Linked DNA regions of Homo sapiens: region 2 is linked to region 1. Evidence: fine-mapped expression QTL. A gene starts in region 1. The other region holds a variant in brackets. All regions are shown on one strand. Distances are from middle to middle.

Region 1 (10,481 bases):
CAAACCGGTATCGCTGTGGGAGCAGGCGGGGCTGCGGGCCCAAAAGTCACAAACGCACAGATTGGCTAGCGGCAGGGGGCGGGGCCCGCGCGGGAGTCAGGGCGATGCGGCTGGGAGCCCAGACGTCACCCTGTGGCGTGCGGCGGGGTGAGAGGGGCGGGGCCTGCGCGCGAGGGACCCGGGACGTGCGAGCGGGCGAAGTCGGCGCTTGGGGTGGCTCTGGTCCCTAAGTCGCTTGGGCTTCGCCCGATCCCTGCACATCCCTACTCCCCGCCGTCGTCCCCCTTCCCAGGGCCCCAGAGCCTAGGGTTCCCCGGCCGCATCCCGGTCGGCCGCCCCAGCAGCGGCGGGAAGGGCCCGGACCCTAAGAGAGCGCGGGCCCCGGGCCAGGCGCTGCCGAGGGCGCTTTGTGTGCGCATCGCCCGGGAAGCGGCTGCAGGGCAAGGCCCGCGCCTACGCGATCCCCGCAGACCCCCTGCCATGGGCCCGCCTTCCCAGTCTGCGGGGCTCTCGCCCGCGCACATGTGCCTGCTGCTTACCACCGCCTACCCCTCTGCTTCCCTTCCTCCTCCCTCGCTCCACCCGGGAGGAAATGGGGCACTGGGCCAGGAGGCCGCTGGCACTCCAGAAGCAAGCAGTCTTCGAAGGGGCCCGGGCATGCCGACGGGCACGCCAGTGGGCGCGGGCAGAGGGCGCCGTGCGATGCGTGCAGAGACGACGTGTGCCCGCCTAACCCTTCATGCCGTTCATTCACCCGGGGCACTGGGGGGAGCTGAAGTGGGGCGTCCTCTCCTGTCGGAATGGTCCCTGAGCGCAGCGTGGCTAGGCAGGGGGCAGACGTGGGTGGCGAGCTATGGATTCCCATTCCCAGGGCCTTGATCAGATATTGGCTGTCTCATGGAGAAGAGAAAGGAGGTGACATTCATCATTCATATTCTTTTTTTTTTTTTTTTTTTTTTGAGACAGTCTCGCTCTGTCACCCAGGCTGGAGTGCAGTGGTGCAATCTTGGCTCTCTGTAGCCTCCACCTCCCGGGTTCAAGTGATTCTCCTGTCTCAGCCTCCCGAGTAGCTGGGAGTACAGTCACATGCCACCATGCCTGGCTTTGTATTTTTAGTATTTAGTATTTGTATTTTTAGTAGAAACAGGATTTCACCATGTTGGCCAGGCTGGTCTCGAACTCCTGACCTCAAGTGATCAGTCCGGCTCGGCCTCCCAAAGTGCTGGGATTACAGGCATAAGCCACCGCGCCTGGCTGTGACATTCACATTCTAAACAAAGCCAGCTGAGGGTGTATGGAATCAACTAGTGTGCCCCTCACTGGGTAGGCCCCAAACTGGGAGCATGAAGAGGTGACATGCCATCTGTAGTTTCACAGTTGAGGGCTGGTGACAAGGGAAGAAGAGGGGAGGGCTCTGGTCATGTCCAGAATGGCTGGCCTGGCTGGTGAGGGTCACAGACCAGTCATCCATGGAGGTTTGCCCATGGGGTGGGAAGAGGTAGACACCTGGGGGAGTAATGAGGAGATGGGGCCCTGTTTTGACTACACGCAAAGATCCTAACAAAGAGGAATCACTGTTGGCAAGGCCCCACTGTGTCCCCAGCAATATGGAAGGAAGTGTGGGTCCATGAAGACAGTGCCTGGCAGTGTGCAGCAGGAGAGCCTTGGGTAGGGCAGGGGTTTGCACCTCATCTTTCAGAGCTGAGGGGACAGATGGCAGTTTGGACTCTGGGCTGCTCAGAGGCTGCCTTGTGGATTTTTTAGTTTTGACAAAATCAGATTCCCCAGCACCTCTGCAAGCCTTCTGCAATCCTGGCCCCTCTCCCAGAGGCCTCTGTGTACTAAGTGCTGCTCCATCCTCCCCCATGCCACCCCTCCCCATACGGATCCAAGCTGTTTCCTTATGAGGTCAAGGAATTCTAGATTTGCCTTCTCCCTAAGGAGCACCCCCCACCCGTTCTGTACCTGCCTCGACACTCTGCCTTTTATGTCCCACCCCTTTGCCCCACAATCAGGTCCCACCACAGATGGCACCAGGAAGCTGAACTGTGATGGTCCCCCTGCACCCACCCTGTGGGTACCTGGAGCCTAAGTCCAGCCCCATTGCAGTGCAGCTCCACTCCAGACCACTGGAAGCCAGGCAGGCTCCTGAGCAGCAGAGCCTCCATCTTATACAGGGAGAGTCAGGACCCTGCGATCAGGGGAGACTTGTCCAAGAGCCCTGAGTACAGCAATTAATTCATGGAACATTCCCCCACCAGTACCTGGTCCCTGGGGGTGATGACCTGGACAGCCTCAGAGAGTTTCCCGTCAAGGGTAGGGTGGGATTTGCAGTCATCAGAGGGTCTGGGAAGGGCGTGTGCAGGAAAATCTGAGGGCCTCAGGGGGTTCTTCCTGGGAAGTGCAGGCAGAGGAGACATCGGGATGCAACCAATTCTAAGTCAAGAATAAGAAAACTGAGTTGCTCCTTAAGGATGGAATGGCTTGCAAGCAGTATATGCTGTATAACTTACAATCCCAACATGATTGAGTTACGAGGAAAAAATATCAACATGGAAACATTCCTCAGTGTCTATGACAAGTAGATGATTGTTCACTGAGCTGTTAACGTTATTTTTTTATTTGTATTTTTATTTTTATATTTATTATTTTTTTCCAAGACACAGTCTAGCTCTATCACCCAGGCTGGAGTGCAGTGGCGCAATCTCAGCTCACTGCAACCTCCGCCTCCCAGGTTCACGCGATTCTCCTGTCTCAGCCTCCCGAGTAGCTGGGATTACAGGCGCCTGCCACCACGCCCAGCTAATTTTTGTATTTTTAGTAGAGACCGGGTTTCACTGTGTTGACCAGGCTGGTCTCAAACTCCTGACCTCGTGATCCACCTGCCTCAGCCTCCCAAAGTGCTGGGATCCACCACGCCCGGCCTTTTTTTTTTTTTTTTTTTTTTTTTTTGAGACGGAGTCTCTATCACCCAGGTTGGAGTGCAGTGACGTGATCTCGGCTCACTGCAACCTCTGCCGCCCGGGTTCACGCGATTTTCCCGCCTCAGCCTCCCGAGTAGCTGGGATTACAGGCGCCTGCCACTGCGCCCGGCTAGTTTTTATATTTTTAGTAGAGACGGGGTTTCACCATCTTGGCCAGGCTGTTCTTGAACTCCTGACCTCGTGATCCACCCACTTCGGCCTCCCAAAGTGCTGGGATTACAGGCATGAACCACCGCACCTGGCCTTTTTTTTTATGTTTAGTGACAGGGTTTCACTGTGTGACCCAGGCTGGAGTGTAGTGGTGAAATTATAGCTCACTGCAGCCTCAAACTCCCGGGCTTAAACGATCCTCCCATCTGTCTCCTGAGCAGCTGAGACTACCGGTGCACGTCACCACGCCCAGCTAATTTTTATATTTTTGGTAGAGATAGTGTCTTGCTGTGTTGCCCAGGTTGGTCTCAAACTCCCGGGCTCAATTAATCCACCTGCCTCAGCTTCCCACAGTGCTAGGATTATAGGCATGAGCCACCATGCCCGGCCAATGTTTTCTTTAAGATCAGAATCTTCTTAATACTAAACAAACTTAACTTTCTCGTCCCCCTGAGCGATCCTGTTTCTGCTGCCCACCCCAGGCCAGACCTGGCAGCGCCTGATCCATGGCAGTCAGGTTCATCCCAGGGCTCGGAGCCCTGCAGTCCCGTCCCGGGGCCCTGCCTGACGTAGGCGCCCAGCCAACACCTGCAACGACCTGTTGCCCCCACCCCAGGAAACAATCCCGGCTTGGGACAGACACCAGGGGCTGTGACTGTGGGTGGCTCCTTGGAGAAGGTGGCCTTGGGCCTCGGCCTTTCCACCTGGGGTGCGCTTGGCTCCCCCAGACTCAGACACGCAGGATCCTTGTGATTGGGCCTAGACACGAGCCCTGCAGTCCCTGTGGGCGCTGGAGGCGACTCCCCCACGAAGCCCTCCCTCCCCCAGGGCCTGGCGGCCCTCGCCGGCGGTGAGCTCATCTCGGGGGGCGGCGTCGCCCGGCGGCGGGTCGCTGGAGCTCACGGCGTGCCCCCGCACCCCCGCCCCCCACGCACCCGTCCCGGGCTCCTGGGCAATTTTACCAATTAAGGCTTTCTCGCCGGGCCGGGCCGGGCGCGGGGCGGGCGCGGGGCGGGGGTGCGGCCAACAAGAAGGCGGGCGGCGGCGGCCCATTCGCGTGGAGGCGCGTCGCGCGCAGCGGACGCCGACAGAATCCCCGAGGCGCCTGGCGCGGGCGCGGGCGCGAAGGCGATCCGGGCGCCACCCCGCGGTCATCGGTCACCGGTCGCTCTCAGGAACAGCAGGTGAGGTCTCCGCGGCCCGGCTTCGCGCCGTAGGGTCGCCGCGCTCCTCGTCGGCCGGGGGCGGGGTTGGAGAAGGCGGGCAGAGAGGCCGGAAAACGCAGGCGCCAGCTCGCGCCCAGGTCCGGGCCAGGTTCAGCTGGGATGCGTGAGCCGATGGAGGCTCCCCTGGCATCTGGGAGTGAGTGTCCAGAGAATAGCTTCCCTAGTTGACCCACGAGCCATGTCTGTGCCCACGAATGTGGGAGCCTGAGGCCATGGGGGGTCCCCGAGAGAGAGAGGGTGTCTGGGCACTTGCCCATGAACGGACCACTGCATGCCTGAGAGAGAAGGGCCCTGACACCAGGAACTTGTGTGGACTCAGGGCGAGTGGCCACCTGGAAGGACACTTCTCAGCCAGTGTGCCCACTGGGAGGGGGACAGCGTGTCCCTTGCTGGCTCGAGTCCACAGGGCACCAGCTGCTTTGGGCACAGGGGAGCTGGTTCTGGGGCTGCTCTACTCCATGGGGGCCATGGTGAGGATGAGACCAGGCCAGGTTCCTTGGTTGGGCCCTGGGCCCTATGCCAGGTTGGCTCTGAGTTGGATGCGCACTGCCAGCCAGGATATAACCAACAATGTCCCCAGATTCCCGTGCCACCTGGGGCCAGGCAAAATAGGTTAAAATCCACTGGCAGACCCATTTGTAAGTGCTCCGAGTGCACCGTCAAGGTGGGAGCTTGGGAATGGGCGACCTCACCTGCCGCACCTGGACTTGCCAGCACAGGTCTCTTCTCACCTTGCCAGTCTGCGGCTTCCTTCCCTCCTGCGCCCCCTGGCTACGCAGGCCTGGAAACAGCTCCTTAGGGATCCCAGCTGAACAGCTCCTGGGCTTGGGCTATACCTCCCAGTGGGAGGGTCTGGCCTGGGGTCTGAGGGCCAGGGGTGGTGTGGTGGGCGGGGTGTGCCTAACATCCAAGAATCTACTCCAAATAAGGGAAAATATGAAAGAGCTGGATTTTGGCTTCCCAGGACTGCCCGATCTGGTGGCTTTGGGATCGGGCGACATCTGGCGGTTGATACTATGTTCTAGGGACAAGAACCCTCTACACGCCCATTCCTTGTTTCCTCTAAATAGGGAAAAGCTAGGGCTGGAAGACACGGCACCCACCTCCTGACACTCTTTCTGCTGGAATTGACCACTGGTCACTCTGACTCAGTTTCCCTGAGCTCTGAAGATTAAGGAATGAACCCAGACAACCCAGCTCAATGGCCCTTAGTGGAGAGAGAGTCAATTATTGATGGAATTCCGTGCCTGGGAACTTGCTTTCCAGTGGGGCAGGGGGACCAGAAGGACAACTTCAAGCCCGTCTTGAATGGGGCCCGTGCAGGGAGGGGTCTGTATGGGTTCCCCCTTCCCAGCCCTCCCTCCCACCTCCACCCCAGCTCCCAGACGCCCAGGCGCACTTGGTGCAGGTGTGTCTCAAAGTGGTCAGGAGAGGGGACAATATACAGGGGTTGGCCTCAGTACTGGAAAATGCCATTTGCACCCCCTAACACCACTACTAGTGGGAAAAACCAGTGGGGCCACAGGCTGCCCCGAAGTGAATGTGCTGGGCGGATCACAGCCCCACCACGTGTCATGTAGACACCCAGGGCTACAGGAGAGTCAACCATATTTGGGCATGACGTGCTGGCCAACCCAGGGCCTCCATCTCTCACTGGTCTTTAGCAGATAAATTAATTATTACTAGAATTGAACAGGAGGGACAGATACCTGCCTTCCTAGAAAAAAAAAAAAAACACTCAGAGGAGGAAACATTCTGGAGAGGGGAGGTACCGAGGACTGAGAGGGAGGGGAGTGCACAATGGGGAGGAAGCCATAGGCAGGCTGGCTTCTGACTGAAGATAGTAGCAGTGAGCGTCCCCAGCCGTCCCCTGGTCCCAGTCTACATCTCGGCACAGCAGCCACTGCACCATCTCCAGAGTTATCTACCAGAAAATTTTGAGTGAAGAGCCCCCACAGCTCTGGGGACACAACCCCCCAGGCCCCTGATCCCTGTCCTCAGGCCTCCTCTGCACCTGCCACCACACCTGAAGCCCACCCAGACCCAGGTGCTCAGAGCCTGACAAGTCTTATGGGAACCTCTGAGCAGGCCCCTCTGGGTCTGGAATGCCACTCCCGTGTTTGCCCCCTGCCCTGGCCACGCTGGGCTGAGGGGACTTTCCGACAGGAGAGGACCCCCCGCTTCAGCTCCCCCCAGTGCCCCGGGTGAACTGGCATGAAGGGTTAGGCGGGCACACGTCTCTGCATGCATCGCACGGCGCCCTCTGCCCGCGCCCACTGGCGTGCCCGTGGGCATGCCCGGACCCCTTCGAAGGCTGCTTGCTCCTGGAGTGCCGGCGGCCTCCTGGCCCAGTGCCCCATATCCTCCCGGGTGGAGGGAAGCAGAGAGGGAGGCGGTGGGAAGCAGCGGGCACAGGTGCGCGGGCGAGGGCCCTACGGACTGGGAAGGCGGGCCCGTGGCAGGGGGTCTGCGGGGACCGCGTAGGCGCAGGCCTTGCCCTGCAGCCGCTTCCCAGGTGATGAGCACACAAAGCGCCCTCGGCAGTGCCTGGTCCGGGGCTGCCGCTCTCCAGGGGTTCGCTCTTAGGGTTGGCCCCTTCCCGCCGCTGCCGGGCCGGCGGACGGGGATGCCGCCGGGGAACCCTAGGCCCTGGGGGCCCGGGGAAGGGGGATGACGGCGGGGGGTAGGGATGTGCAGGGACGGGGCAGAGCCCAAGTGACTTAGGGAAGAGAGCCACCCCACCCCCCGCAGGGGCCCTGGGGAAGGAAAGTCCCTTGTAAGGCGCGCCGGCTGCAGGCCAAGCAGTCCCGCGCCAGACACTGCTCAGCCTTTCCTCGCTCTAGGGCGCGTTTCCTGCAGCGCCAACGCGAGGCTGCGGGGCTGGGAGCATCCTTGCCCACCCCACTGCCCAGCGACCCACCCTGGAGCCCGGGTTTCGCGTCTGATCAGCCGAACCCGGGGGCCTAGTGGGGGCATTCCAACGGGCGGGGCGGGGTGGGGCAGGCGCGCCCTCGAAGCCCCACCCCACGGCCCCTCCCCGCAGGAGGCCCGCCCTCTGGCCCCGCCCTCCTCCCGCATTTAAAGGGCTCGCTCTCTCCGCAGCGCAACCTCTGCTCCCTGCCTCGCCTCCCGCGCGCCTAGGTGCCTGCGACTTTAATTAAAGGGCCGTCCCCTCGCCGAGGCTGCAGCACCGCCCCCCCGGCTTCTCGCGCCTCAAAATGAGTAGCTCCCACTCTCGGGCGGGCCAGAGCGCAGCAGGCGCGGCTCCGGGCGGCGGCGTCGACACGCGGGACGCCGAGATGCCGGCCACCGAGAAGGACCTGGCGGAGGACGCGCCGTGGAAGAAGATCCAGCAGAACACTTTCACGCGCTGGTGCAACGAGCACCTGAAGTGCGTGAGCAAGCGCATCGCCAACCTGCAGACGGACCTGAGCGACGGGCTGCGGCTTATCGCGCTGTTGGAGGTGCTCAGCCAGAAGAAGATGCACCGCAAGCACAACCAGCGGCCCACTTTCCGCCAAATGCAGCTTGAGAACGTGTCGGTGGCGCTCGAGTTCCTGGACCGCGAGAGCATCAAACTGGTGTCCATCGGTGAGGGACGCCCCGAAGCGCCGGGCGGGCGGGGGCGGGGACTCCGTGCGTCCTTCCATCTCCCCGGGCGGACCCCTCCAAACCACCCCCTTCCGGGCCGCAGCGCAACTCCCGAGGCCTCCGGCTGCTCTGCTCCACGCGGGCCTGCAGAACAAAGGCGCGCGGGCTGGCTGGCTGGCCGGCCGGGCGTGCGAACCGCTACGCGCCCCCGCCCGCTGCGCCCCGGCTGGCCGGCGCCCAGGCTGAACTCACATCCTCCGCAGGCCGCGCCTCCGCGGCTGTGCTCGCGGTGGGAGTGGGCCTGGGGGGTCGGGCACTGGGCAGGCTCCTGGCCCTGCGCCCCGTCCCCGAGGAGGAGGAGGCCCGGGCTCTCCCCCCACAGCTGTTTAGAGAGGGCCCTCTGGCCTTCAGAGGCCCGTTGGTTCTGAAGTGTGGGTTGGAGCTCGTGCGTCCCATTGTCTGGGGCTCTGGGCTCTTTGTGTCCCTGGAGGATGGGTCGCCCATCGGAGATGGCTCCAACCACCAGTTTAGATCTACCCCCCCACACACACACAGGCAACCTGGGGGCCAGAAAGAAGCATAGTTAGCAAAACTGCACCCGGGGTGAGTTGGGCGTGGTTGACTGAGAGACCTGGCTTGTAGACTACTTGGACGCCAACTTTTCTCTTCATCTTGGGCCAAACTCTTGCTTCCATGTAGGCCTTGCTTTTCTGCGTGTAGCACGCAGGAGTTGGTTGGTAGATGCTCCAGCGTGCATTGTGCCAGCCCAGTGTCTGTGTCACTGGACTGGAGAGGCTGGCATTGACCAGGCCTGCTGCAGCAGCCCAATTCGTTCTCAAGATAGGGGCTGCATGAGAGGGCAGGCCCCAGAATGGGTGACTCGGGGGTGATGTGGAACAGGGAGAGGAGAGGGATGATGAGTCTTCTCTTCTTCAGAATTGAGAGGCCTTCCAGTTACCCTGCAGCCCTGGAATGGCCCTTGCTGAACCCAAGAAAGTGAGGGACCAAGACTTGGGTTCCCCCAGCCACTCAGAGGGCAGATCCCAAGAACCAAAGTTCTTTCTTTGGAATGCCAGTTGAGGCGAGGGGCAGGCCCACCCCCACAAGTCCCAGCCTCAGTCTAGCCAAGCTGAGTCATCTCAGTCCTGGATGGTAGGGGGGGCGACCGGATGTGGGGAGGCGGGCCACACCCCAGCTCTTTAGGGGGGGTCTCCTCCCTCCTCCCAGCTCCCCTCCTCCTTGTGAGCTGGCTGGAGCAGGCCTAGTTCCCAGAGCTTTGCCATATAAGGCAAAAAAATGTTGGAAAGCAGCAGTGATTAGGGGAGGGAGGGGTTGGCTGGCCCAGGGGCTGGGGAAAGGGGGGTGGGATGGGGCGGGGCCATCCAGCCAGACAGTCTCCCAGCCCTGGGCCCTGGTCCTTCCCTCTCTCTTTTGGGAGGGGGATGGGGACGGAGTAGGCTGGCCTAACATGGACCTGGTGGGCCTGGTTGCTCCCCGTGTGGGGGTCGTTGAGGGGTCTGAGGCTGGACTGGGGTGGGGGCCTGATGGGAAGCCCTGGCTGGCCTTGTTCCCTGGCCCTGCACCCTTGGTCCTCTCCGAGTCCCCCTCCCTGCTGCCATTTGGGGAGAGTGAAAGGCAGCCTCGTGGGGCCAGGACCAACCTGGGAACTGGGGAGGCCACTCTGAGCGGCTCACCTGGCCCTCCAGGTGCTGCCTGCTGGGCTGGGAAGCAGCTGCCATGGACAGCCCAGCCCCTCCTCATAGGCCCGCCCCCTAGTTGACTCACCAGAGAAGTATTTTGTCTGATTATGGGGGAGGCTGACAGGGCTTCTAAAGATGAGCCATCCTGCCTTGAGCCTGAGACCCAGAAGTAGCCTTGGGTGGGGCCCAGAGCCCAGCAGGGTTGCCATGGTGATGGGGGGTGTCAGGGACCCGCCCTAACCACTTCCCCTGTGGCGAGCCTGCCGAGGCCCAGAGGCCCGTTAGGTGGCAAGTGGGTCAGGCAGTGGGTGGCAAGGGGGTTCCCAGTGTCTCCTGCTGCCACCCCGGCATCTCCCGATGGGCCCCAGTGAGTCAGGGCCATGTGGCCCAACTGCTGGTTCCTTTGGGCTCTGGGCCCCTCCCCTGGCTAGGCCTGTGGCCTCCCAACTCCAAGCTTGAGTCTTCGAGGTGGTAGAGGAAGTGGGGGTGGTGGCGGGGGTCACAATCCCTCACCCAAAGGGCGTTTGCCCAACTCCCCCACTTCCCCTGCCTCACCCCACCCACCCTGGAACAACAGTTGTATTTCCCAACCACCCAGGGCCACCCACCTTCCTCTTCCTCAGCCCCAGCCCCACTCCAGGTCATGGGCCCTGGATTCTGGGCCAGCTGGAGTCAGCCTCCTCCTCCTGGTTCCCCATAGGCCCCTGAGGTGTGTGGCGGACCCCTGCTCTGGCAGCTGTGGACACTGTCCAGCTGTTCTCCAGAGCTGCCCATCTGCAGGCTGGGTCTGCCCTCTGCCCTTCCTCTGGGCCCAGGGCTTCTGGCAGTAA
Region 2 (15,577 bases), 25 kb after region 1:
GGGGGAGGCTGGGGAGTACTGATTGCAGGGCCTTGGGGGCTTTGAGGGTGGGAGCAAGACTCAGTAACCTCAGTTTCCCTGGCTACTGTTTGCAGAATGGAGACAGGGAGCCCGGGGTGGGGAAGGGGGCGCTGAAGTTGCTCTCTGGCAAGCTTGACGGCCACGGGGCTTCAGTGAGAGCCAAATTAGGAGGCATACTTTGAGGATGGAGTGGCTGAGACCTGCGGTTGGCTGGGAGCCGGGCAGGGAAAGTGGGGGCAGTCGGGTACCTGTGAGGTTGGGGCCCAAGCCACTAACTAGATGGCATGGGGTGCACATGAGTGAAGCCTCCCAGGGCAGCGTGGGCAGCCGGCAGCCAGGTCTGGAGCCTGGGAGAGCTGCCTGGCCGCGGCAGGCCAGCATGGAGCCTAGTGCAGCAGGAGCCCTCGGCCGATAGTGGGACTTGGTGGCAGGGCCCCTCGAGCTTGGCCTTCAAGTAGGTTTCGTGCTCCTGGCTGCTTCCCTGGCAGGAGGCCAGGCTGCAGGGGGCACTCTCACTGCCAGGCCTCACAGCCCACAGCCCCCCAAGCCTCCACGGCGGAGACCCAGATCATAACGTCACTGTCTCTCCCCTTTCCTCGGGCACTCTGGGGCCCTGGAGCCTGCTCAGCTGCTCTGCCCTCGCAACCCAGCAGTGGTGGCTGTAGCTTGGGCCTCCTGTTCCCTGTCTCCCTGGGTGCTATCCCCGCTCTGCCAAGCCTGCTGCGCTGCGCTACTCGGGTGCTAACCCCGCTGCCTCCCGCTTCCCCGCTCCCACTCCTGTCTGCACCGGGCTGCTTTTCACCGCGAGCCTTCTCAGTTGTCAGGAAACTCCGGTTTCACCATCAGGCCTGGGGGGTGGGGAGGCAAGTGTCACATCCCCCCACGCTGCAGCAGGACTCCGCCTCACCGCGTCCACACACAGCAATGGGGGCCGGGGCCAGGCCAGAAGGGCGCAGGCAGCCGTGTGCCCAGCCAGATGCTGGCGTTCAGCAGTGTGGGCCATGGTGCTGGACGAGGCTGAGTAGGCAAGGGAGTGGCTGTCAACACTTAGGCTGGAGTGGGCCCTTCCTTTTCCTCCCAGGCACCTGGGTGCTACTGTCGGGCCTCTCCCACATGGGCACTTGAGGTGGTCAGGAGAAACCTTCCTGCCTTCTGAGAAACCACTCGCCATCCCAGCTTGGAGGGGCAGGGCGGGGCAGGAGGCCTGGCGGCCTGGCTGTGCTTGGTGGTGGCAATGAGAGGCCTGTGTGGGCGGCAGGCGGACGGGAACAACCTGAACCCGAGCTCACACGCTGGCCCCCCTTTGGGGACCCACCCTGCCCCACCAGGTGCTGGCATCGGCCCCACCATTCAGATTGGGGAGGAGACGGTGATCACTGTGGACACTAAGGCGGCAGGCAAAGGCAAAGTGACGTGCACCGTGTGCACGCCTGATGGCTCAGAGGTGGATGTGGACGTGGTGGAGAATGAGGACGGCACTTTCGACATCTTCTACACGGCCCCCCAGCCGGGCAAATACGTCATCTGTGTGCGCTTTGGTGGCGAGCACGTGCCCAACAGCCCCTTCCAAGTGACGGTGAGGAGGGGTGGGGGGTAGGTCAGCAGGGGTGTCTGGCAGGTCCCGGCCTGTTCCCCTGGGGCCCCTCTGTGACAACAGACTCTCCAGCAGCTCTCTGCTTTGCCCTGCAGGCTCTGGCTGGGGACCAGCCCTCGGTGCAGCCCCCTCTACGGTCTCAGCAGCTGGCCCCACAGTACACCTACGCCCAGGGCGGCCAGCAGACTTGGGTACGGCCTGGCCAGCTAGGGACACTGGGGCTAGCCAGCTGGGTGTTCTGTGAGCCCCTAGTTTACCATGTGTGAGGAGGGACCCCAGATCCTCCCACTGTCCCTCACCCATGCCCTGTGTCTCCACTGCAGGCCCCGGAGAGGCCCCTGGTGGGTGTCAATGGGCTGGATGTGACCAGCCTGAGGCCCTTTGACCTTGTCATCCCCTTCACCATCAAGAAGGGCGAGATCACAGGTGAGTGGGGACTTGGGAAGGAGCTCGGGAGCCAAGGAGGCCAGACTGTGCCAATGAGCTGCCCTGACCTCAGCCCCACTGCCCCACAGGGGAGGTTCGGATGCCCTCAGGCAAGGTGGCGCAGCCCACCATCACTGACAACAAAGACGGCACCGTGACCGTGCGGTATGCACCCAGCGAGGCTGGCCTGCACGAGATGGACATCCGCTATGACAACATGCACATCCCAGGTGGGCCTGCCCTGCCTCTGCCCACTCCACCGCCACCACCTCACAGAGAGATGGGGCTGGGGGACACACGAGGCTGCCATTCCACAAGGCCCTTCTTCCTGCCTCAGGAAGCCCCTTGCAGTTCTATGTGGATTACGTCAACTGTGGCCATGTCACTGCCTATGGGCCTGGCCTCACCCATGGAGTAGTGAACAAGCCTGCCACCTTCACCGTCAACACCAAGGATGCAGGAGAGGGTGAGCAATAGCTCTGGTCTTGACCTGCTCTGTGCCCGGGATGCCCTCACCGGGGTAAGGGCTGGACTCAGGAGATACTCCTGAATGGGGCTCCCTGCCCTGCTGCCCTGGCCATCGGAGCTCCTCAGTGCAGGCCAACTGGAGTGTCCCCAGCATAGTTCCCATGCTCACCCACGGCTCTCTCCAGGGGGCCTGTCTCTGGCCATTGAGGGCCCGTCCAAAGCAGAAATCAGCTGCACTGACAACCAGGATGGGACATGCAGCGTGTCCTACCTGCCTGTGCTGCCGGGGGACTACAGCATTCTAGTCAAGTACAATGAACAGCACGTCCCAGGCAGCCCCTTCACTGCTCGGGTCACAGGTGGGTGGCACTGGGAGCAGTGACAGAAACGGGTGGCAGGGTGGGCATGGTCTCCCATGGCTGGACGCACACTGATGGCTGGCCTGTCCCCACCAGGTGACGACTCCATGCGTATGTCCCACCTAAAGGTCGGCTCTGCTGCCGACATCCCCATCAACATCTCAGAGACGGATCTCAGCCTGCTGACGGCCACTGTGGTCCCGCCCTCGGGCCGGGAGGAGCCCTGTTTGCTGAAGCGGCTGCGTAATGGCCACGTGGGTAAGCGGCTGAAGGGTCCAGGGGGTTCAGAAAGGAGGCAGCCTGTGGGGAGCCATGCCCTCCCTGACTGACAGCCATGCCCTGTGTCCAGGGATTTCATTCGTGCCCAAGGAGACGGGGGAGCACCTGGTGCATGTGAAGAAAAATGGCCAGCACGTGGCCAGCAGCCCCATCCCGGTGGTGATCAGCCAGTCGGAAATTGGGGATGCCAGTCGTGTTCGGGTCTCTGGTCAGGGCCTTCACGAAGGCCACACCTTTGAGCCTGCAGAGTTTATCATTGATACCCGCGATGCAGGTAGGCAGTGGCTGCCCACCAGCTGGGGCGGGAGCACTGTGCATAGCACCGAGGCTCAGGGGTATCCATCCCCTAGGCTATGGTGGGCTCAGCCTGTCCATTGAGGGCCCCAGCAAGGTGGACATCAACACAGAGGACCTGGAGGACGGGACGTGCAGGGTCACCTACTGCCCCACAGAGCCAGGCAACTACATCATCAACATCAAGTTTGCCGACCAGCACGTGCCTGGTGAGTGCAGCAGTGCCTCGGCAGCCCCCCTCACTACACCAGGGCCCACAGGCAGTATGTGACTGGAGGGGCGTGGGCCGTGCTTTCTTCCTGCAGGCAGCCCCTTCTCTGTGAAGGTGACAGGCGAGGGCCGGGTGAAAGAGAGCATCACCCGCAGGCGTCGGGCTCCTTCAGTGGCCAACGTTGGTAGTCATTGTGACCTCAGCCTGAAAATCCCTGGTAGGGGCTGTGGGAAGCCTGGGGAGGGGTCCTGGGGCTCAAGCAGCCCCAAGAGGAGGGGTGGAGCCCAGGGCTGCTGCTCACTAGCCCATCCCCACCCTGCAGAAATTAGCATCCAGGATATGACAGCCCAGGTGACCAGCCCATCGGGCAAGACCCATGAGGCCGAGATCGTGGAAGGGGAGAACCACACCTACTGCATCCGCTTTGTTCCCGCTGAGATGGGCACACACACAGTCAGCGTGAAGTACAAGGGCCAGCACGTGCCTGGGAGCCCCTTCCAGTTCACCGTGGGGCCCCTAGGGGAAGGGGGAGCCCACAAGGTCCGAGCTGGGGGCCCTGGCCTGGAGAGAGCTGAAGCTGGAGTGCCAGGTAGGCCTGCTCACACCCCGAGTGCTCGCTCTCCTGCGTTGGCCAGGGTGGGGTTGGGGGTGGAGGAAAGAGCCGGCAGGCATGTCTACCTTGGCTATGCCTGGAGGGGGCCGAGGCTGGTGAAGCAGCCTTCAGTGAGGACAAACTGTTCTCCCACAGCCGAATTCAGTATCTGGACCCGGGAAGCTGGTGCTGGAGGCCTGGCCATTGCTGTCGAGGGCCCCAGCAAGGCTGAGATCTCTTTTGAGGACCGCAAGGACGGCTCCTGTGGTGTGGCTTATGTGGTCCAGGAGCCAGGTACTGGGAACCCGGCTGGGGTTGGAGGAGGTGGGGCCTGAGTGTGGGTATTGGACCCAGGGCTGGCACAGATAGCCCTGCCTGGCACTCACTCTTCACTTTGAGGTCACAGGGCCACCCAGGCTGTTCGTGGGAGGTGGGAGGCCCAAAGGCTGATGAGCCGGTCTTACACTCTTTCCCTGCCCAGGTGACTACGAAGTCTCAGTCAAGTTCAACGAGGAACACATTCCCGACAGCCCCTTCGTGGTGCCTGTGGCTTCTCCGTCTGGCGACGCCCGCCGCCTCACTGTTTCTAGCCTTCAGGTGAGGCACCGAGAGAAACCGCCCACCTGGGGCTCCTGGGCCCGGACAGACCAGAGCCACCGCAGAGACCAGGCCTTGGCCCTGTGTTCAGTGACCCCCCTGGCCCAGCTCTGGGTTCCAGGCCTCTGCTCTGGCCGGGTGCAGCCCACGCTTGGGGTCGGCAGGAAATATCCTGCCCACCACGTGGAGTTTTTCTCGTGTCTCAGGTCTAAAGGCTTTGAACAGAAGCCTGTGCCCCTTGAGCACCAGGGCTGCGGTTTAAAGAGGGACAGCCTGCCAAGGCTGGGTGCTGCCCACAGGGTGGGGCAGCCCTCCCTTCCTGCCACCTGGGTGTGTGCGACGGCAGAGTGTGGGGGCAGGGGCGGGGATGTGCGCCTGTGGCTTGCTGCCCCTTGCAAATCAGTGGCTCTCCCTCTTTAAACCAAGTTGGACGCCAGATGGGTAAGTGCGACCCGCGGGCCTCTTGCTCCTGGGGCCTTTCCGTCCTCCCTTGCCCTGGC[T/C]CAAGCACCCCCATCTAACCATGTCTGCTGTGCTTCCAGGAGTCAGGGCTAAAGGTCAACCAGCCAGCCTCTTTTGCAGTCAGCCTGAACGGGGCCAAGGGGGCGATCGATGCCAAGGTGCACAGCCCCTCAGGAGCCCTGGAGGAGTGCTATGTCACAGAAATTGACCAAGGTGAGGCCCTGTCCCTGCCCGGCCGCCCTGCCCTGCTGGCTGGAAGCAGGCTGAGAGTACAAAAGGAAGGTACCGCTTCTGTAAGCAGCCAAGACGGGGCCCCAACTCCTGGGCCCCCTAAGCCAGGCAACCCTTTCCCAATTGGTGACCCAAGCCGCTGGGGATGTGGCTCGCCACCCACAGCTATTAGGAAGGCCTTCTACCCTGCAGTACCATGCCATCTCCACAGGGAAAGACTCAAAGTCCAGCCTCAGTGCTGCCCGGCCCTTCAGCCACGGCCATGGTACTTGTGCACAGGCCTGGGGCAGCCTTGTGGGTAGGAGGAGCCCAGTGGGCTTCATTTCACGGCCTAGTCCTGCCCTTCCCAGCTGCATGACCTGAAGCAAGTTCCTGCCCGTCTCTGAGCCTGTTAACATGCAGGGGATATGGTGTTCACGGTAACCTTTCTTAGGAGGCAGCAAGGCCTGGGTTTGGCTTGTAAAAGATTTCCGTCCCAATGCACCCTGACGGTGGGCAGCTTGAGTGTCTAAACCTTCGGCCCTCAGGAGGTCTGCTGCGGGGTGCAGGTGCCCAGCGTGGCTGGGCTCACACTGATGGACCGGCAAAATGGGGAGGGCCAGGGTTGAGGCTGTTCCTCACAGACACCATCTGCTGGTTTGAGGAGGGGCCCCAGGCCCACAGCATGACTCCCTGCTCCTCAGATAAGTATGCTGTGCGCTTCATCCCTCGGGAGAATGGCGTTTACCTGATTGACGTCAAGTTCAACGGCACCCACATCCCTGGAAGCCCCTTCAAGATCCGAGTTGGGGAGCCTGGGCATGGAGGGGACCCAGGCTTGGTGTCTGCTTACGGAGCAGGTCTGGAAGGCGGTGTCACAGGTAAGTCTGTCGGTGCGGCTGCACGTGTGCACACAGCTGCTAGGCCCTTGCCTCCAAGCTCTTGGTGACAACAGGAGGCACCTGGAGGTGACAAGCCTGTGCTGGGTGGCCGAGGACAGGGAGGCAGGCCAGTCTGGCTCTGCCTGACCTCCTGTGCTCCCAGGGAACCCAGCTGAGTTCGTCGTGAACACGAGCAATGCGGGAGCTGGTGCCCTGTCGGTGACCATTGACGGCCCCTCCAAGGTGAAGATGGATTGCCAGGAGTGCCCTGAGGGCTACCGCGTCACCTATACCCCCATGGCACCTGGCAGCTACCTCATCTCCATCAAGTACGGCGGCCCCTACCACATTGGGGGCAGCCCCTTCAAGGCCAAAGTCACAGGTGAGCCTGGGGCCAAGCTATTGGCATCTGCCCAACGCCCGGCACCACAGCCACCTCTTAGCCCCACCCACTCTGCCTTGCAGGCCCCCGTCTCGTCAGCAACCACAGCCTCCACGAGACATCATCAGTGTTTGTAGACTCTCTGACCAAGGCCACCTGTGCCCCCCAGCATGGGGCCCCGGGTCCTGGGCCTGCTGACGCCAGCAAGGTGGTGGCCAAGGGCCTGGGGCTGAGCAAGGCCTACGTAGGCCAGAAGAGCAGCTTCACAGTAGACTGCAGCAAAGCAGGTGGGCAACCTGGGCCCCCGGCCCACCTTCCCACCAAAATGAGGCCAGAAATCACAGGATGGCCAGTGTCTGGGAGAGCAGGGACCGCCTTTGGGGCGTGGCTTTCACTTCTAGAGCCACCTCCCTGCCACCTCCTGGACCCCTCAAACAAAGACCAGGGAGGAGCTGGAATCTGCTAAGCTGGCCTGGGTTGGGGAGGTGCTGGCAGCTCTTTAGGAAGAGAGAACTGTCACCCCAGAACTGGCTTAGGGACAGGAGAGGAGAGCAGGACACCAGCGGGAGGAAGGGGGCTGGGACCTGGGACTGAGGACCCCTCTTGCCTCAGGCAACAACATGCTGCTGGTGGGGGTTCATGGCCCAAGGACCCCCTGCGAGGAGATCCTGGTGAAGCACGTGGGCAGCCGGCTCTACAGCGTGTCCTACCTGCTCAAGGACAAGGGGGAGTACACACTGGTGGTCAAATGGGGGGACGAGCACATCCCAGGCAGCCCCTACCGCGTTGTGGTGCCCTGAGTCTGGGGCCCGTGCCAGCCGGCAGCCCCCAAGCCTGCCCCGCTACCCAAGCAGCCCCGCCCTCTTCCCCTCAACCCCGGCCCAGGCCGCCCTGGCCGCCCGCCTGTCACTGCAGCCGCCCCTGCCCTGTGCCGTGCTGCGCTCACCTGCCTCCCCAGCCAGCCGCTGACCTCTCGGCTTTCACTTGGGCAGAGGGAGCCATTTGGTGGCGCTGCTTGTCTTCTTTGGTTCTGGGAGGGGTGAGGGATGGGGGTCCTGTACACAACCACCCACTAGTTCTCTTCTCCAGCCAAGAGGAATAAAGTTTTGCTTCCATTCTCCTTTGCGTGGCTGTAGCTTTGTTGGGGTTGGGGGACCAGTCAAGGCCAACCTGACAGGGGTGCCAATGAGCAGATCAAAGCATGGGCTGAGCACAGGTCACCTCCCTCCAGGGCTCCTGCTTCACCCCACCCTGACTCCAGAAGGCACCATCTATCTTTGCTTCCTCTGCCTCCCTGAGTTCAAGCCAACGTAAGGAGAGGAACATGTAGCAACCTGGAATGGAGCCCAGGCAGCAAGGAGGCAAAGAGCTGGGCAGGAGAGCCCATTACTGGGTAGGGTGGTGTCAGGAAGGCTCCCTGGTGGAGGTGGCCAGATAATCAACAGCAGGCCCGGCCGGGTGTGGTGGCTCACGCCTGTAATCCCAGCACTTCGGGAGGCCGAGGCAGGCAGATCACAAGGTCAGGAGATCAAGACCATCCTGGCTAACACGGTGAAACCCCGTCTCTACTAAAAATACAAAAAATTAGCCAGGTGTGGTGGCGGGCGCCTGTAGTCCCAGCTACTCGGGAGGCTGAGGCAGGAGAATGGTGCGAACCCAGGAGACAGAGCTTGCAGTGAGCCGAGATCGCGCCACTGCCCTCCAGCCTGGGCGACAGAGCGAGACTCTGTCTCAAAAAAAAAAAAAAAAAAAAATCACAGCAGGCCCTGGCCATCTGCCAGGTAACTTGAACATGCCACCATGCCACCATTCCCCCAAACAAGGGACTGGGATGAGGCCCCCTCCCCCAGGCTCTGGGCCTCAGGGCCCTTTAGTTAACAGGTGGCAGGAGGTGGATGCATTCAAGGTGCCAATCCCAGGTACCCTGGGCCCCCTGCTGAATATCCCCTCATTGGTACCCCTGCCGTGGATTCCCACACCAACCTATGTGTCTCCCACTGTAAAGATTGCCCCCAAACACATAACATCCCAAGTCGTCCTGGCTCCTGGTGCTGCCTGCATGCTATCGGGACATCCCAACTGCAGCACCCAAAGCTGCCTGCTCCCTGGGCCAAAGGCTTTGGCCCTCGATCAAACCCCTGACAAGGACACCACCACCTCAGACATCTGCAGACAAGGGCCAGGAAGCAAGGCTCTCGGGGGCAACGCTCAGCTTTCTCGCCACATCCTCCCTCAGCTCCACAGCGTCTGACACGACCAGGCCGTAGCCTGCAGCCATGGCACACGTCAAACCCAGACCTTCTGAGACCTCAACACCACGCGTACCCTCCTTGACCCCTGTTGAGAGGGCAAAGTAGAAAAGGCAGCGGCAGTTCAGGCAGGATGGCTACTTTTATTTCTCACTGGGGCTGGGCTGCTGGCCCCAGGCTCAGGGCGGCCACTCACTGGGAGACACGGGGCAAGCAAGACACAGAAAGGGGAAGTCCCACCCCCAGCCGCAGCCACTCTACTGCTCCCCCTGGGCCCAATGGCATAGAGGTAAAGGGGCCAAGCACACTCTGGAAGCCTCTAAAAGCCACCAGCTGAACGGGGCTGTGAGGCAGCAGAGCCAGGCCCAGAAAGATGCAGTGCCAGTTGGGAGGACGGGAGGTCCCCCTGAGGCTGCGACTTGTCCGCTCAGCCCACTGTGTGCCCAGGATTCTGAACCTCTGGGGCACTCCCTCCTGTCCCGAGTCACCCAGGGTCTCCTGCCCCCTCCCTGTGTCTGCTCCATCACATCCCCTCTCAAGCCCCATGCCTGGCAGGGCCACCGCCCTAGGGCTGGGCTAGGTGAACCAAGGGCACCGGTCCCCCAAACCTGCCGATCGTCCCCAGGCTGCAGGGAGGGACACATGTGGGGCGGCAAGGGCAGAAGATAAACTAGGGGGATCCGGGCCCCTGAGGACAGCCCTGGCGGGAGGCCACAGGCCTCACAGGGTGGTGAGCTGGAGGCCACCCAGGCAGGCAGGCAGGCAGCAGGGAAAGAGACTGGCACGGTCCTGGCCAGGGCCCCCCCCGGGAAGGGCGGGCAAGTAGGAGCAAAAACAAGAGCAGAGCACGGGCCCCCACCCTGCCGGGTCCTATGGCCTGGGGACTCACACACACTGAGGAAGACCCAGGAGGACCCGCCAGGCTACTAGGAGGAGATAAAGGGTGCACAGGCCTCCAACCCGCAGGTTGTGTCTGGACTGAGTCCAGGGAGGGCAGGGAGGGGCGGTAGCCCAGTTGACCTTCCCTCCCCCAAGCCACACCTCTGCACCCCAACCCTCCCTTCCGCCTCCCAACAGCCCCATCCCCGCTCTCCGAGGAAACTGGGAGGGGACCTGGAGAGGAAAGGGAAGCAACGGCCCCTCAGAGCGGGGTTCCCCAAAATCCATGGCCAGGGACTGAGGCCAGCACTCAGACACTGTTGGGAACACTGGCCAGGAGTCCCTCGGGGTGGACCTGGGAACCTGCTGCAGAAGCTTAGGGGACCGGGCCAGCTCAGGAAAGGGCTCAGGCTGGAAACCGAGCAGACAGGGCACCGCTGGACCTGGGGCCGAGGAGGACAGGAAGTAGGTGACTATGGAAAGACCCCCGCCGCCACCCACGCCCAACTCGGCACACAAAGGCCCAGAGAGGCCCCCAGACATGCCTGTGGGGGCAGGGGTGTTTGCAAACATTTGCAGAGGGACCGGGTGTCCCAGGCACATGGACAGCTTGCAGGGCCCGGCTGAGGCTAGGACAGCAGCAGGTGGCTGGCAGGAGGTGCCCCGCCAGGGTCCCCAACTGTGTGGGGGGCAGGCCCGAGGCAGGCGGCACCAGTCCCGGGCAGGATCTCTCGGAAGAGGGGCCGTACCCAGCCAGGGTTCCCAGAGACACGGGTGGTGGGGCCGAGTGCCCCCTCACCCTGTGCCTGGCCCCCAACAAAGGGTGAGCATGTATCCTTCCTGGACACGGTGTCCAGGGCAGGGCACTCCCGAACCAGGATGCCCCCTAGGCCACAGGACCCCTCAGCCCCAGCTGACAGCAGCCGGGGGGGATCTGGGGAGGCCCCCAGGAGGCAGGGCGGCAGCCAAGCAGAACACCATCCCTGGACCCACTCTCCAACTGCAACCAGGGCCCGCTCCCCCGAAGGCACCAGCTCTCCCTAGGGGCAGGACCTTGATCCAGAGCAGGAGTGGAGGCCCCCAACAGGGGACGGCTGGAGAGGCCCTGGGCTCACGAGCCAGGGAGCGGCGCCTCTGTGCCCGGAAGCCCCTGGGTCCTGCCTGGGCTGCTGGTAGCTGCTGCGGGCCGAGGGGTCCGGACGCCCCTAGGGTGCTCTGGGGCAGCTCCTTTGGGACCCTCAATGGAGCCAGTAAGTCCAGGAGGGCGCCGATCCGTCCAGGTGGGTGCATGGGCCGGGACAGGGTCTGGCTGCTGTCGTGGCTGTGCCCATCTGCCGAACAGGTCGCTAGGAGAGCACTCCCTGAGCGAGGGCGCCGGGCAGCCCGGGGAGGGAGGACACAGTCCCCGTCCAGGCCCCCGAGGCCCCCATAGCAGGGAGAGCCGGCCCTCCTCGCTGTTCTTCCCGCGGGATCGGGCCGGCACCTCGGCTCAGGGGAGAGAGGGTCACAGAGGACAGCCAGCAGGCAGGTGGCCCAGGAGTGTGGGGGGTCGGTGGGCCTGACCGTGTCCTGAAGCACCCCAGGACCCTGTACCCGACACCCTGGGGGAGGGGCTGTCCCCACTTGCCAGGAACACATTCCTCAGGGAAGGCCCGGCAACCTGCTCTCGTCGGGTTCAAGAAGGGCCAGGCGGCTTTGGAAGGGGCCAGGAGCTGTCACCAAGGGCCCCCGCATTGCCCAGAGGCGGCGCGGGCCAACAGGAAAAGCACTCACCGCCCACGGAACCTCTGTGACAAACTCAGAGCCACGGAGAGCGTCATCAGCAAGTCACTTGCCAGTCCCAGTGGGAAGGATGGGGCACGTCTCCAGGGAAACGAGACACCAAGGTCTTCCTGGGGCCCCAGTGGAAAGCTCCTTCCAGGACCCACCTGGCCCTCCACATCCCACCCTCCAGGCCAGGGACCGGAGCCCAGTATCCGGCAACCTGACACATCACGGAGAAAAGGAGCTGCTCTGCCTTCACCATGACGACGCGGCACACCCCCTCCCTGCCCCGGCCCCTCCCCTTCAGGGCTGCATGCGGGGAGGAGAGGCCTCCCCTGTCTGCAGAGAGAGGCTGCCCCACCTGGGGCAGAGAGGGGACAGGGGCAGGAATGAGCCCCTGGGAGGGGGGCATTGGAGGTGGGGGGCACATCCTGCCACCCGGGCTGGCGTGGGGCACTCATGCCATGCAGACCAGAACGGGCTTCCCACCGGCTCCTGGGGATGTTGGACCGGGGCTCCCCGACCAGGGCTGGGAAAGGCTTCCATGAAGAGCCAGAGAGCACACGGCGCAGACCCTGCGGGGCACACGGGGTCTCGGTGGCAGAGTCTCCCTTCTTGGGGTTCTCTGTGATGGGTTTTGCAACCCTTTCAGGATGTCAAAGCACGCCCCGCCCTCAGAAATGCAGGCCCCGGCCAGTGTCAGCCCCAGGAGGTGGCCTGCTGCTCCCGCTGACACCAAGGACATGTTCCTGAGGCGGCCCGCTCGGGATCTCCAGCAGCCGACGCAGGTCTACACGTGCAAGGGTGCTTCTGACTCGCAGCACTCAGGAACAGCCTCCACCCTGAGCGTGGCGCCCTCTCCAGCACGCGCCAGGGTGGACCTGTGAGACCAATAAAAACCACAGCGGAGGCGAGGCGAGTCACTTAGGAGACCAGGCCATGAAGAGACTGTGGCCGGGTCTGGGGCGCCCTCTCCTGCTGGTTCGACTGGATTGCAGGTCCGGGGGAAGCCCAGCAGCCCTGGGGAGGAGGCCCGGTGGGGAGGAACTGAGGCCTCCTGCCACAGCCTCCAGAGGGAGAGTCATCACGAGGGCTCCCCACCCAGTCAGATAGGATGGCTGGGCCCCAGTGGACACCTGACCGCAGCCTGAGAGGGACCCTGAGCCACAGTCCTGGCTCCCCGAGAGCCCTCCCAGAGCCTGTCCCTCAGAACCCTTGGGGGGGTGACACGAGTGCTGGGGGGGTGAGACGAGTGCTAGGTGGGGAAGGACCGAAACGTGAAGTCGTCTGTTACCCAGTAGTCGGAACTGGTGCCCAGCGTCCAGGGGGCAAGACACGGCGTGAGCCAGAAGGAAACAAACCGACAAGAACCCCCAGAAGCCATCAGGAAAGCCTGGAGATTCTGATGACACGAAAACTAAAATCCCCTCTGTGACCAAGCACAACCCGCAAACCACACAGTCAAGAGACAAGTGATAATAAGGGGAGAAAATAGTAGCAAGAGGTGACTAAGGGCTCGCGTCAGTCACACACACACAGAGCCGGACACACGGACAAGGCAAAGTGCAAGGACAAGAGAGCAAAAGGGGGCGGAGGAGAGGAAGGGAGAGGGAAGGAAGCGTCTTCTCCACCGGGATGCAATTCCTTGGGAGCCCGTCTGACCCCAGGGCAAAGAGATGCTGGGTCGCCAGAGCCGCCGCGGAGAAGTCCCGCCGGGCCTCAGAGCCCAGCAAAGAGGAACCAGGGCGGACGGGCCAAACCCAGCGGCCGGCTCCCGGGGGGGTGGGTGGTGGCGCTGCGGGGAGTCGCCTGAGCAGCATCACCAGCAGCTGGGAACCCTCCCGGTGCGGGAAGGTTGGCGGGTAAGGCGGGGCTTCCCCGGAAACACTGGGCTGGACCCAGCGGTCCCATGGGTGCTGGAACCAGCCCTGCGGGTGTTCCCAGGCACCCTCCCGCGGGAAGACCGGCTGGAGGGATGGCTCCTGTTGGCACCCACGTCGAGGGAAGCCACCGCCTTCTCTGCGGGGCTCGCCTTTCCTACCTCCCCCAGGAGACAGTCAGGCCAGGAAGCGCCCCAGCCCACGACCGCCCGCAGCAGAGCAGGATTCCCTCCCCGGCGGCCGCCGCTGTCAAGGGACGGGGAAGACTTTGTTACCCCACCGCGCGCCACCGCGGAATGGTGCACAGACACCTCCAGACGCCACTTCCCCCAAGACGGCCGCCCGCCCCGCTCTGCCCACCTCTCCCTGGACGCTGCCGGGTGGGCGCGGCCCTGCTTCCCCACGACCCCCCAGACGCGCCCCGAGGCACTTTCGCAGCACAGTGGAGTGGGAAGGGCGGGGCGGCCCCTCGACGGCGCCGAGGCGAGAGCGGCTCACGGGGCTTCCCGGGCCCTGATCTCAGGCGACGCCTGTCCGCCTCGTCCCCGGGGGAAGACAGTGACCACCGGTCTGCAAAGGAAGGGGACTCGGCGCATGCCCCGCAGGGCCGGCCCAGGACTCGCAGGCGCGGAAGGCGGTGCCGAGGCGGGGGCGGGGCGTGGAGGGACAGCCCTAGTCTCCGCCCGCCGGGGCCCACAGCTGCCTCGCTCCCCGCCTCCGCTTCGGTCGCTCCTGGTAAGCTCCAGGCGCCCACGGGAAGCCCCGCCCAGCCCCGCCTATCCGTCCTCCTCTTCGCCTGTCCTCGCCAATGACCATGCTCAGATTGCACGGAATTCCCGCCCCTCGCCCTTGACTGACGCTCCTGCTGCCCAGTGGACGACACCCCGTCGCGTGCGCGCCGCTGCGGCCCTGCCGGGTGTGGCGCGGCGCTCTCAGGCTCCTAGGCGTTCCCGGGGCGAGACCCAGGGCGCTGGCCGCAGAGTCGCCGGTGCACACGCAACAGTGCCGCCTTGTGTTTTGGGTGTGGACCTGCGCTTCTCTAAGCGTTCCATTCCCGAGAAGGGGCGACAAACGTCCAGAGGTCGTGGCACCTGCCCGCCGCTGCCGGGGCGTCGGCCGTGGGCGCAAGTGAAGCGCCCCGGGAGCGCGGCGCGACGTCCGTGCCTTCCGAGGGCGGCCCGGGTGTCGCCGCGGTGCGCGCGGGAGGGCGCGGCCGTGGGCATTTCCGCGCTTGCGCGGGTTCCTGTCCCGCCCCGGCCCCGGCCCCGGCCCCGGCCCCGGCCCCGGCCCCTCCCTCTCGTGGCCCCGCAGTAGACGCAGCCCCTCCCTCCCGCGGTGCAGCGCAGCCAGGGCTCTGCTCCGGGAGTCATGGAGTCCATCACCGCGGAGCGTTATCTCAGCGGACCCACGCGGTGTCCTCCGCTGGGGTGGGCCGAGTACCCTCCGCCTCCCGCCCGCGAGATCCATCCCAGCCCCTGGCGGGGGCCCGTGGTTCTTCCCGCTCATGGCCACGGAACGGTCCACGCTCGCGGAGCCGCAGGCTGAGCTTTTGCTGGTGAGGGACAAGGTCGTGGTTTCCCGTGGCTGGTGGCCCTCACGGAGGAGCCTGCTGGGAGCACGCCCGTGTAGGGTTTCCTGTCATCGGGTTGCCACGCCCATCTTGAACGCTCGAGTCCACGCAGAAGTGTAGAAGTGGATGTGTAGCTTTATTTGTAATTCTCTTTCTTTCTTCCTTTCTTTCCTTCTTTCTTTCCTTTTCTTTCTTTTTGAGTCAGGGTCTCACTCTGCGCCCAGTCTGGAGTGCAGTGGCGCGATGAGGGCTCACTACAGCCTTGACCTCTCCACCCCAGCGAGGGCTTCAACCTCCAGCCTCAGCCTTCCGTGTAGCTGGGACTACAGGCGCACGCCACCACCATGTCCGGCTAATTTTTTACTTTTTGTAGAGATGGGGTCTCGCTTTTTCGCCCAGGTTGGTCTGGGATTCCTGGGCTCAGGTGATCCACCCCAGCCTCACAAAGTGCTGGGATTCTGG

The links. PIP is the estimated chance that this variant, and not a neighbour inherited with it, causes the effect.
Region 2: its variant is fine-mapped to the expression of FLNA in whole blood (TOPMed, PIP above 0.99).

The regions. Positions count from the first base shown.
Region 1 is chrX:154,368,343-154,378,823 of GRCh38, reverse strand. It overlaps FLNA (filamin A), which reads left to right and starts at 4,190. Exons shown (of 48, transcript NM_001110556.2): 1 at 4,190-4,318; 2 at 7,463-7,951. The coding sequence starts at 7,579. RefSeq lists silencers at 4,104-4,243, 4,254-4,313, 5,856-5,915, 6,859-7,078, 7,089-7,218 and 7 more and enhancers at 5,403-5,452, 6,637-7,278, 7,284-7,809, 9,392-9,917, 9,839-9,978 and 1 more.
Region 2 is chrX:154,340,845-154,356,421 of GRCh38, reverse strand. FLNA (filamin A) reads left to right here. Exons shown (of 48, transcript NM_001110556.2): 31 at 1,350-1,597; 32 at 1,711-1,806; 33 at 1,939-2,041; 34 at 2,131-2,271; 35 at 2,379-2,507; 36 at 2,695-2,868; 37 at 2,965-3,126; 38 at 3,218-3,421; 39 at 3,498-3,650; 40 at 3,747-3,869; 41 at 3,975-4,241; 42 at 4,401-4,538; 43 at 4,726-4,841; 44 at 5,381-5,513; 4 more. The coding sequence ends at 7,573. Among named protein-coding and RNA genes, the nearest start is that of FLNA, 26 kb to the left of the region's middle. RefSeq lists enhancers at 8,669-8,758, 8,789-8,928. The variant T/C (reference allele first, on the strand shown) is at 5,342.